Linked DNA regions of Homo sapiens: region 1 is linked to region 2. The links come from fine-mapping of genetic effects on gene expression. A gene starts in region 2. The other region holds a variant in brackets. All regions are shown on one strand. Distances are from middle to middle. Region 1 overlaps POLA2 (DNA polymerase alpha 2, accessory subunit). Region 2 holds the start of POLA2 (DNA polymerase alpha 2, accessory subunit).

Evidence for each region. PIP is the estimated chance that this variant, and not a neighbour inherited with it, causes the effect.
Region 1: its variant is fine-mapped to the expression of POLA2 in whole blood (INTERVAL, PIP 0.93).

What each region holds. Positions count from the first base shown.
Region 1 is chr11:65,294,081-65,299,447 of GRCh38, forward strand. POLA2 (DNA polymerase alpha 2, accessory subunit) reads left to right here. Exons shown (of 18, transcript NM_002689.4): 14 at 73-181; 15 at 466-572; 16 at 1,460-1,519; 17 at 1,784-1,910; 18 at 3,040-4,605. The coding sequence ends at 3,189. LOC105369344 (a long non-coding RNA gene) reads right to left here. Exons shown (of 3, transcript XR_007062727.1): 3 at 1-1,544. Among named protein-coding and RNA genes, the nearest start is that of CDC42EP2, 18 kb to the right of the region's middle. The variant A/T (reference allele first, on the strand shown) is at 2,002.
Region 2 is chr11:65,259,230-65,264,596 of GRCh38, forward strand. POLA2 (DNA polymerase alpha 2, accessory subunit) reads left to right here and starts at 2,733. Exons shown (of 18, transcript NM_002689.4): 1 at 2,733-3,142. The coding sequence starts at 3,064. RefSeq lists enhancers at 1,871-2,758, 2,753-3,002, 2,759-3,644.

The sequences.
Region 1 (5,367 bases), 35 kb after region 2:
CTGTTGCGCAGCTGTTCTAACTCAACTGCACTCACTTTTCTCACTCTTCTGTTTGTTCTTTTGCCATACTAGCTCCGGCTCCCACCTTGTCTTTGTCCCGTCATTGAGAGATGTGCACCATGAGCCTGTGTACCCCCAGCCGCCTTTCAGCTACTCCGATCTGTCTCGAGAGGACAAAAAGGTAGCAGCACCCACTCCTTGACCAGCAGGCAGCCAGAATCCAGCATGCCTCTGCCACTAGCTCTGGCCCTGAAGGGGAGGGTGGAGAGGCCTCTTTAGGGTGTGCGTACAGCCTGAATCTTAAACTCCTTTTTTTAAACAGGCAAATGTGTCCAAAAGCTTGATGTATGTTGGTTTGGTCCCCCTTTCCGTGGTCTCCCCAGCCCTCAGACAACCCCCACTTTCATGGGAAGATGTTTCTAGCTTTGGCATACAAATGTTTGTTTCAATCCGTTCTCATTTTAGCAAGTACAGTTTGTGTCCGAGCCCTGCAGCCTCTCCATAAACGGAGTGATCTTCGGCTTGACATCCACAGATCTGCTTTTCCACCTGGGGGCCGAGGAGATCAGTAGGTAAGAAGTGTGTTCCAGGCCCCAAGCAGGATGACTGGCTTTCTGGTCCCAGCCCTTTCTGCAGCCAAGAAAATCAAGGGGCTGCTTAACGGTCTTGACCAGAGAGAGCTGAAAGCAGCAAGCTGTGCCAGACCCTCTAGCCATCTGAGTTTCTCTGTACCCAAGGGGAGGGGTTGGATGCATTAGTTTCTGTTACCACCTCTCTAAACTGCGTTTGAGACCCCAAAGAACCACGTCCATTCTGTCTTTGCACTTAAAGGCATCAAAATTCATCTACATTTTCTTTTCTGCTCCCCTTTTTTTTCATTTCCCAAATTTGTGACCTGAAAACAAATGTGGACATCCTGTTTGTGGAGGATAAACTGGGAATTTTCTCTGAAGGATTTTCTTCACTACCAGTACAACATCCAGCTCTGCAGAGAATCAGGCCCTGACAAATTTGTTGAGTTGAAGTTGGGCAGCTCCGTTCTGCCGTCATCCTTGATGGGAAGGGGCATGTGAAGCGACTCGCGTGTGAAGCGAGACGGGTGCGGCTCCTTGGCTGAGGTTTGAGATTCAGGTCAGCCTGGCTACACACCCGCCTCATGATGGTGCCAACTTTGCATCCTCTTGCACAGTACGGTGCTGGCTAATGGCCTTCCTTGATCTTGATTATGAGGGATTCCTGTGCTTTCCCTTCTCAACCTGGTGTCCTGCGTCCCTCCTCATGTGGGGACAGACTGAGCTCCTTGTGGGTGGGTCTTTAAACTTCCCCAGAGGCATCCTCCTCTTGTTGCTGTGCCTTGGCCATTTACCTTCTCTCTGGTTTATTAAATTCTCCAGTCCTCCCTGAAGAGAAATGGGCTGAAAAACAGAGTTCTGTTTTCATGCTTTCTTTTCTTTCCCAGTTCTTCCGGAACTTCAGACAGATTCAGCCGAATACTCAAGCACATCTTGACCCAGAGGAGGTGAGCTTGCCGCTGGGACCCCTGACTGTGGAGAGAGTGCCTTGGGGTCATGGAGCTATGACAAGCATGACTGTAAGAGCCTTCACCAGGCTACCAGCAGGGAACTTTACCCTGTGATGACAAGCCTGCATTCTGCCCCACACACACAGAGAAAAAGTCGGTCTGTGGATGCCAGCAGCACGAAAGCCAGTACCTAGGGGGACTCTGTCTGAGAAGGGGGCCCCCCGGTCAGCTAGTGCTGACAATTTCTCTCTGTCTCTGTAGCTACTACCCACTCTACCCGCCCCAAGAAGACATGGCCATTGACTATGAGTCGTTCTATGTTTACGCACAGCTGCCTGTCACCCCAGATGTCCTCATCATCCCGTCAGAGCTGAGGTACTTCGTGAAGGTAGGTTTGAACTCTGCTTTTTCCCAGAAACACCAGAACCCAGTCTTTGACTTTCCCTTCTAGACCACCCGGCACTCACCCCTCATGGGTC[A/T]GCTGATGGGGATGGGGCCTCTAGCACCCTGCCCTGTGGCCTTGTTTCTTTGGGGAGGTGGTGGGACCAGAAAACAAACAACTCTGTCAGTAAAATGCTTGAGTAAACAGTGTCCTCTCCTCCCTCCCCAAGAGAACGAGAGCCCAGATGACTAGGAAGGCCCTCAAATGAGGGCTTTCACCAGGCCACATAGAGGTGACCTGGGGAAGATTTCATATGTACACTTGCCTGTCCTCTGCCTCCCAAATTCTGATATGACCTCCAAGTGGGCTCAGCTGGGAATACCTTGAAGAAGCTATTGGGTCATTTTGATCTCTGCCACCCTTTAGCCCTGCCTGCCTTGGAGTTAGGTCCCTTACAAGGAATCTGCCTAGACCAGTCCCCCTCTTGCCAAACAAGAGTTAGTTCAATCTCAAGAGGTTAAAAAAAAGTTTTTCACATGAGAAAGCAGTAAACAGCTAGATCAGGTTTGTCTCCAAGTTTAGGAGCTGATTGTCATTCTGCCAAGTCACCTCATTCTTCTGTTTGAAAGACTTAAAAGGAATTCAAAGCTTTCTAGTGACAAGTTAACATATGTGACTGAGGCCGGGCGCAGTGGTTGACAATTGTAATCCCAGCACTTTGGGAGGCCGAGGTGGGTGGATCACCTGAGGTCAGGAGTCTGAGACCAGCCTGGCCAACATGGTAAAACCCCATCTCTACTAAAAATACAAAAATTAGCCAGGCATGGTGGTGTGGGTGCCTGTAATCCAAGCTACCTGGGAGCCTGAGGCAGGAGAATCGCTGGAACCCGGGAGGTCGAGGCTGCAGTGAGCTGAGATCTCACCACTGCACTCCAGCCTGGGCAACAGAGCGAGACTCCATCTCAAAAAAAAAAAAAAAAAAAGTGACTGAAAATGTGTCTGGTGATTTGGTTGCCTTCGTTTCCATTTTCTAAAACCCTCTTTGGGGTCCAGCCATGTGATGGCACTTCTTTTTCACATTGGTTCCCAGTTAGTTGAGGCTCTCCAAACCTGTCACCTCTCCTCTCCTCCCCAGGATGTCCTCGGCTGTGTCTGTGTGAACCCTGGGCGCCTTACCAAAGGGCAGGTGGGAGGCACCTTCGCCCGACTCTACCTTAGGAGGCCGGCAGCGGACGGGGCAGAGAGGCAGAGCCCATGCATTGCTGTGCAGGTCGTCAGGATCTGAGGCTTCTGTCCTCTGCTGTTCTCTGCTGTGTGGGCCCTTAAAGTCTTAGCCAAGAGCCAAGACATAGCCCTGTGACAAGGTGAACAGTTGGGTGGGAAAGGAGAGAGGAGCCAGCCAGGGAGGGGCAGCTGCAGTGACCAGGCCCAGCAGGGAGGACTTGTGCAGCCGGGCCTGCCTCTGAGTGGTGCCTCTCCTGGAAGGAAGCTCTTGCTTCTCAGTCCATGCTCCGTGTCCAGAAGTAAGCCAGCTGTGGATCCCGCCCACTCAGAAAAGGCGAGAAGGCTTTGTGATTTTCTACATGAATCAAACACAGAAACAACTTTTGGAGAAATTAAATTCTGAGTGTGACTTCTGAGTTTGACCTTTCTTCTATTTTCTTTTATTTATTTATTTTGTTTTTAGACGGAGTCTCGATCTGTCGCCCAGGCTGGAGTGCAGTGGTGAGATCTCGGCTCACTGCAAGCTCTGCCGCCCGGGTTCATGCCATTCTCCTGCCTCAGCCTCCTGAGTAGCTGGGACTACAGGCACCCACCACCACGCCTGGCTAATTTTTTGTATTTTTAGTGGAGATGGGGTTTCACCATGTTAGCCAGGATGGTCTCGATCTCCTGACCTTGTGATCTGTCCGCCTCAGCCTCCCAAAGTGCTGGGATTACAGGCGTGAGCCACCGCGCCCGGCCCCTTTCTTCTATTTTCTTTATCCTGGTAGTAGACAAAGAATGTTGCCTATTTGACCTATGTCCAGAGAAGGCAGAGTGTCAGTCACACTGGGTTTCTATCCAGCCCCAGTCCTGTCCAGTGGGTAACTCTCAGCCCCACTCCTCATCCCCCAAAGGCCCCAGTGACCTCTATGCTGCAGAGGTGCACTGGGTGGGCCCTAGAGCTGGGCTGCAGAGCAAGCAACTGGCTGCATGCCTGGGCCTCCCTGCGCAGTTCCTCACATGCATGCTGTGGTCCCAGCCTGACCTCTCCATCTGGAGGGGGCCGCCTCGCTGGGCTGTTCCAAAGCTGGAGTCCTGGTGGCAGCTGCTTTGCCAAGTCGCGCAGTAGCCAGGGCTTGCCTGCAGCCCAGAACACTCAGACAGGGTCAGGCCTTCCAGGGTTCACAGCACGTCCCATGCCCCTATGTCCTGGCATCTGGGGAAAAGCTGTCACTGGCCAGACGTGGAGTGGCTTCCTGCCCTAAGCTGGCAGGCTGTCCTGCCTCACATGCCAGAGCCAAGACCGGCAAACCCCAGCTGTCAGGGCAGGGAAGTGGGCAAGGGGGCAGCAAGCTGCTGGTGTCTATGCCTTGACTCCGAGATAAATAGATGACCTAACAGTGGCCAACTTTTGCCTCTCACCTTTCTGACGGTGAAATGGAATCGAGCCCCAGACCTGACCAGGGTACAGTAAAAGGTCTTCCTTTAAACACAAGGAGCAGCTGTTTTATTTCATTAGTTTTATAGGCACCTCCTCTGAGGCCAAGAATTAGAAACTCATCCCTGCGTGGGGAGTGGATTTTTCCGTTCTCCCCCAGCTCCTCCACACATGAAGCAGCCAGCTGTGTTCCACGGGGGCACCATGACTTGTCAGCCTCCGGATGTGGAATTTTGGGAGCCCAGGCAATGGTTGCCTGGATACCAGTCGTGTGACTGTTGGAAATGATCTGGGAGGGCCGGGAGGGCCGGAGCAGGCATTTAAGAGTCAGACAAAGAGAAAGCGGGATGCTAACACCAGAGCAGACAGGTCTGGCAGGCGTGCCTCTGCCACCAGACAGTTCCTTTTTGCTCTTGTCAGGAAGGTGCCAAGTGACTGCTGGCTGACCGTCCCTAGACCCCACTTCAGCTGTGTCACCAGTTTCCCCAGGCATCTGTCATCCCAGGTATTCTCAAGCAGGCTCTGGGGGCGTGTCAGTGACGGAGGGTGGGAGGGTGCCCAGGAGGTCAGGCCCGTCTGCCTCAGCCCCCTTTGGTGGCCTCTCCCTGATCTGGTCATGGCCCCTGCCCTTGAGACACCAACTAGACGGTCCTGAAGAAATAGTCCCGAGCTCTTGCCAGGATTTGCCTCCCATGCCCATGCCCTTGCCCTGCCTCTGCCCTGGCAGAAGGAGCCGCCCTCCCTTACCCGCCTCGTGGCTTCCCTTTAGGGTTCCAGTCTCTGAGAGGGAGAGGGAGAGCTGCTGAGGGAACAGAAGCC
Region 2 (5,367 bases):
GGAGGCCTGATGAACGTGAAGCCACCATTTTAGCCCTGGGCTACCTATCTCTGAAATTATTTTATCTGACGAGAGAAATAAACTTCTATTTTGTCTCAGCTACTATTGTTTTAGGACTTGGCTATGTCACAGATCTAAAACCCACTTGATTTACTCCTGCAATCAAAATATATTGACACAGAAAAGACAACAAATAAATCAGTGGAATAAAACAGAAAATCCAGAAACAGATTCAAGTGTTTATGGGGACTTGATACATGAAAGATCACAATTCAAGTCAGTTGAAGAATGTTTTATTTACTAAGTATAACTGCTGACATGCTGGCTGTTTGTCAGGAATAAAACAAAGCTAAATCCTTCCTCACATCACAAATAAGATTAATTCTAGGTGGATTAGCGAACTAAAGGCAAAACGTAAGTAAAATTAATAAAACAAAAATTGGAAGAATATTTGCATAAGCTTAGGTCGAGGAGACCTTATTAAACAAAGCAGGAAACCTAAAACCCATACAGGAAAAGAATTGCACAGTGTTGTGTGGTAGAAAAAAAAACCCACAAAGTTAAAAGACAGGTTGGGAAAAATATGTATGTAACACATTTGATATCCATTGGTTATTGCTGATGGTGGGAAACTGCAAACATTTTCCGTAAAGAGCCAGAGAGTAAATATTTGAGGCTTAAGGGTGTGAACCCCAAAAGAGGTTCATGATGGATCCGGAGTGGCTAACTAGGCCTAAATTCAAAATACAGCCAAGCAGCCATTGGCTGACTAGAGGTCACACATACTTCGGTTTTTGTTTGCTTTTTTTTTTTTTTAGGCGGAGTCTCGCTCTGTTGCCCAGACTGTAGTGCAGTGGCACAATCTCGACTTACTGCAAGCTCCGCCTCCCGGGTTCACGCCGTTCTCCTGCCTCAGCCTCCCAAGTAGCTGGGACTACAGGTGCTCGCCACCACGCTAGGCTTTCTTTTTTTTTTCTTTTTTTTTTTTTTAGTAGAGACGGGGTTTCACCGTGTTAGCCAGGATGGTCTCGATCTCCTGACCTCGTGATCCTCCCGCCTCGACCTCCCAAAGTGCTGGGATTACAGGCGTGAGCCACCGCACCCGGCCTTTGTTTGCTTTTTGAGACACGATCTTGCTCTGTCGCCCAGGCTGGAGTGCAGTGAGGCGATCATGACTCACTTCAGCCTCGACCTCCCGAACTCAAGCGCTCCTCCAGCCTCAGCCCCCAGAGTGGCTGAGATCACAAGAACCCGCCACCACCGCCCGCTAATTTTTTGTAGAGAAGGGGTTTCGCCACGTTGCCCAGGCCGATCTTGAACTCCTGGGCTCAAGTTAAGGGAGGAGACCACCCCTCATATTGTCTTACGCCCAATTTCTGCCTCCAAAGAAAGAAAAAGTAAAACTAAAAGGCAGAAATGAAATCCACAAGCAGACAGCCCGGCCTCACACCCTAGGCTTGGTAAAGATGGACCCCTGACCTAATCAGTTATGTTATCTATAGATTACAGACACTGTATAGAAAAGCACTGTGAAAATCCCTATCCTGTTTTGTTCTGATCTAATTACTGGTGCATGCAGCCCCCAGTCACGTACCCCCTGCTTGTTCAATTGATCACGACCCTCTCAGGCGCACCCCCTTAGAGTTGTGAGCCCTTAAAAGGGACAGGAATTGCTCATTCGGGGAGCTCGGCTGGTGAGACAGGAGTCTTGCCGATGACCCCAGCCGAATAAACCCCTTCCTTCTTTAACTCGGGTGTCTGAGGAGTTTTGTCTGTGGCTCGTCCTGCTACAAAGTGATCCGCCTGCCTCGGCCTCCCAAATGCTGGGATTACAGGCGTGAGTGACCGCACCTGGCCTGGGATGGACATTTTAAAGGTTCCTGATACATATTGCTAAATTGTTTTCTCGAAACGCTCTATACCATCCCACCAGCATTGTATGACGCCTACGGTTGAGATTTTTGGCTCAAAGAATTACGGTGTATTTCAAGGGGAGAACCCTCTTCTCATCTTACCCCTAAACTCTATCCTTGAGTGACCTACCTTCACTCCCAAGCCTCCAGTCACCCACTGGGAATCTCTACCTGGAAATCCCAGAGGCACTCAAACTTAACGTGTCCAAAACTAAATTATCCGTCACCTTCCCACCTCATATCCCCCCAAATGCCCCAGATTCAGAAAACATACCCATCACTGTGGCTGGCACCACGGTGATAAGCACGATAATAACCATGGCAACCAGATTCCCTACTGAAGCCATTCTTTTAGGATGAACCAAGGGCACAACAGGCAGAGATGACAAGGGGAATGGAGAAGGGGGTACAGTAAGTTTTAGATAGTCGAAGGCACGCGCACGACAACGCCTGCGCACCACGGAACAGGGCAAAAGGGTGACAAACATGCGCCACTGAGTTTTATCGAGCAGCCGATGCCCAGAAAACAGGCATCCGCACACAGACTCAGTTTCCTTGTAGGCAACTCCCGGGCGTTGCGAGTCACAACCGGCATTCTCGCGCCGTGAGAGAGAACTGCGCAGCTGCTGACTGGCGGGCCGCCAGGCGCGTGCGTAGAGACGCCCACACGCCCGCTGATGCGCACGCGCCCTGGGCCGCGCGTGCGCGCGTGGGGTTCCGGAATGAGCCGGGGAAAGCAAGGGGAAGGTTTGGGGTTGGCTCCCGGTTTCGCGCATGCGTGCACTGCACAAACCATTTGGCGGGTTTTTCCGGCCACTCAGTTCTGCCACCGTCACTGAGAAGCTCAGCGGTAGCTTTTGGGAAGCAGGACGTTCTCACCAGGAGAGCGTCCTCTCGAGATTTCTGCTCCCTCCATTCAGGGCGTTTGGGAGCCACCCCTTCATTTTTTAAAAAAAGTATTTCTCTGTGACCGACGGCCGGGGCCTTCTGACGGTCTGAGGTCTTGCTTGGGCCAGTCACCTCCTGTCACGGTCCGCGGAGGGGGGAAGGATAAGAGGGCGAGGAGCTCATCGCTCGCCACCCCCGTGGGCTTCTTGGGCGCAGGTCGGAGCTGGGTGGGCCGGCTCCCCGGCCCCTGGCTTGGGCGACCATGTCCGCATCCGCCCAGCAGCTGGCGGAGGAGCTGCAGATCTTCGGCCTAGACTGCGAGGAGGCTCTAATTGAGAAATGTGAGTCCCGCACCCCTCCCGCCCTGCAGCCGTGCTCCACGCTCTCGCCCGAGTTCCTCGGCGCCTAGAACCGAAAGTGGAGCGCTTCCAATTTCCACTTCCCCTGGAGCAGAGTTCTCGGTGGCTGTGAGATGAAGAATCAAACTTGAGTTTTGAGATTTAGGATGTGGGGACTTTGAAATGCCCACCGGGTACCGCTTGGATGCCAAATCAAAAATAGGAATATGCAGCACGATTTTAAACCAACTCGAAGTTCCCGAAAGGCGGAATTGGGATGTGCTAGATAGAGACTAGGCACTGGTGGCACCTGAGTTTGGAAATTGTTGAAGCCCCGGTAACAAAGCAACAGATGTGGGGGTTTTGAAATGTAGCTTTTTATTCTTGGCTCCTCCCTTTCCAGCCTACACCTTAAACCTCTGCTGATCCATCAGTTATTTTATCATAGCTGTTGGTGGTCTGTGCAAATATGAATCCCTTGAGGTAGGTTCCTAAAATTGAATTTGAGCTGTGGAAGGAGCTTTAGGGAGCTTTACAGATGGAGAAACAGACAAGGAAAGCTAATTGCCTGAGCTGTCTGTGAAGCCAGGTGTCCTGCCTTGGAGTCCCGTGCTGCATCATACGGGTCCATCGTGTTGGTCAAGCTGTAGAGCAGTGTAAGGAGTCATTTGAAGCAAAGCCTGGGAGATGTGGAAGTTCTAGAATCGGTATGAATGTGCACCTGCCTTAACCACTCAACACTTTGAACTTCTTATATACAAAAAGATAACGAAACGTTAATTTATGGTGAGAAATTCCTTTCAGAAACCAGAATACTTCAAGTCTTCATGCCCAGTGCCTTCTCTCTCTCTCTTTTTTTTTTTTTTTTTTTTTGACAGTCTTGTTTTATCACCCAGGCTGGAGTGCAGTGGTGCAATCTCGGCTCACTTCAGCCTCCGCCTCCCAGGTTCAAGCGATTCTCCTGCCTCAGCCTCCCAAGTAGCTGGGATTACAGGCGCCCGCCACCAGGCCCGACTAATTTTTTTTTGTACTTTTAGTAGAGAAGGGGTTTCACCATGTAGGCCAGACTGCTCTCGAACTCCTGACCTCAAGTGATCCACCCACCTTGGCCTTCCAAAGTGCTGGGATTACAGGCATAAGCCAGCAGGCTCGGTCCTTCTCTTTTTAAAAGAAGACTAGCCAGGTGTGGTGGCTCACGCCTGTAATCCCAGCATTTTGGGAGGCCAAGGCAGGTGGATAATCTGAAGTCGAGAATTTGAGACCAGCCTGACCAACATGGAGAAACCCTGTCTCTACTAAAAATACAAAATTAGTCGGGCGTGGTGGCGCATGCCTGTAATCCCAGCTACTCAGGAGGCTGAGGCGGAAGAATCGCTTGAACATGAGAGGCAGAGGTTGTGGTGAGCCGAGATCACACCATTGCACTCTAGCCTGGGCAACAGGAGCGAGACTCTGTCTCAAAAAAAAAAAAAAGACTTAAGTGGAAAACCTGATCATAGTCAGAAATGTATGTGGTAAGCATGAAATCAGCATGAGAGAAATTAGTTATGTGAACCAGATTTGTAAAGGCTTCAGGCCAAGATGCCAGTTGCTTTCATCTCATGGCAATGGCTTTGGAATTGTGGACTTTGGATCATCAGTAACTTCAGTGGCACCTTAATGTTTCCTGACAGTCAACCGTATTTCCCTGTTTTTTTTGTTGTTGTTTGTTTTGTTTTTTGAGATGGAGTTTCTCATTGCCCAGGCTGGAGTGCAATGGTGCAATCTTGGCTCACTGCAACCTCTGCCTCCCGAGTTCAAGCGGTTCTCCTGCCTCAGCCTCCCGAGTAGCTGGGATTACAGGCTCCCGCCACCACGCCCGGCTAATTTTTTGTATTTTTAGTAGAGATGGGGTTTCGCCATGTTGGGCAGGCTGATCTCGAACCCCTGACCTCCAGTGATCCTCCCACCTCGGCCTCCCAAAGTGCTGGGATTATAGGTGTGAGCCACCACACCTGTTCTACTTTTTGTATTTTCAGTAGAGACAAGGTTTCACCATGTTGGCCAGGCTGGTCTTCAACTCCTGACCTCAGGTGATCCGCCCACCCTGGCCTCCCAAAGTGCTGGGATTACACTGCGCCAGGCCCCTGGTCTCTTTACTCTGAGTCTTCCAGATGATTGTTTTCCACCTTCTCCTGTAACATCCTTCTGTCCCACCCTCACTCTCAGCTGACAAATTTCTATTATTT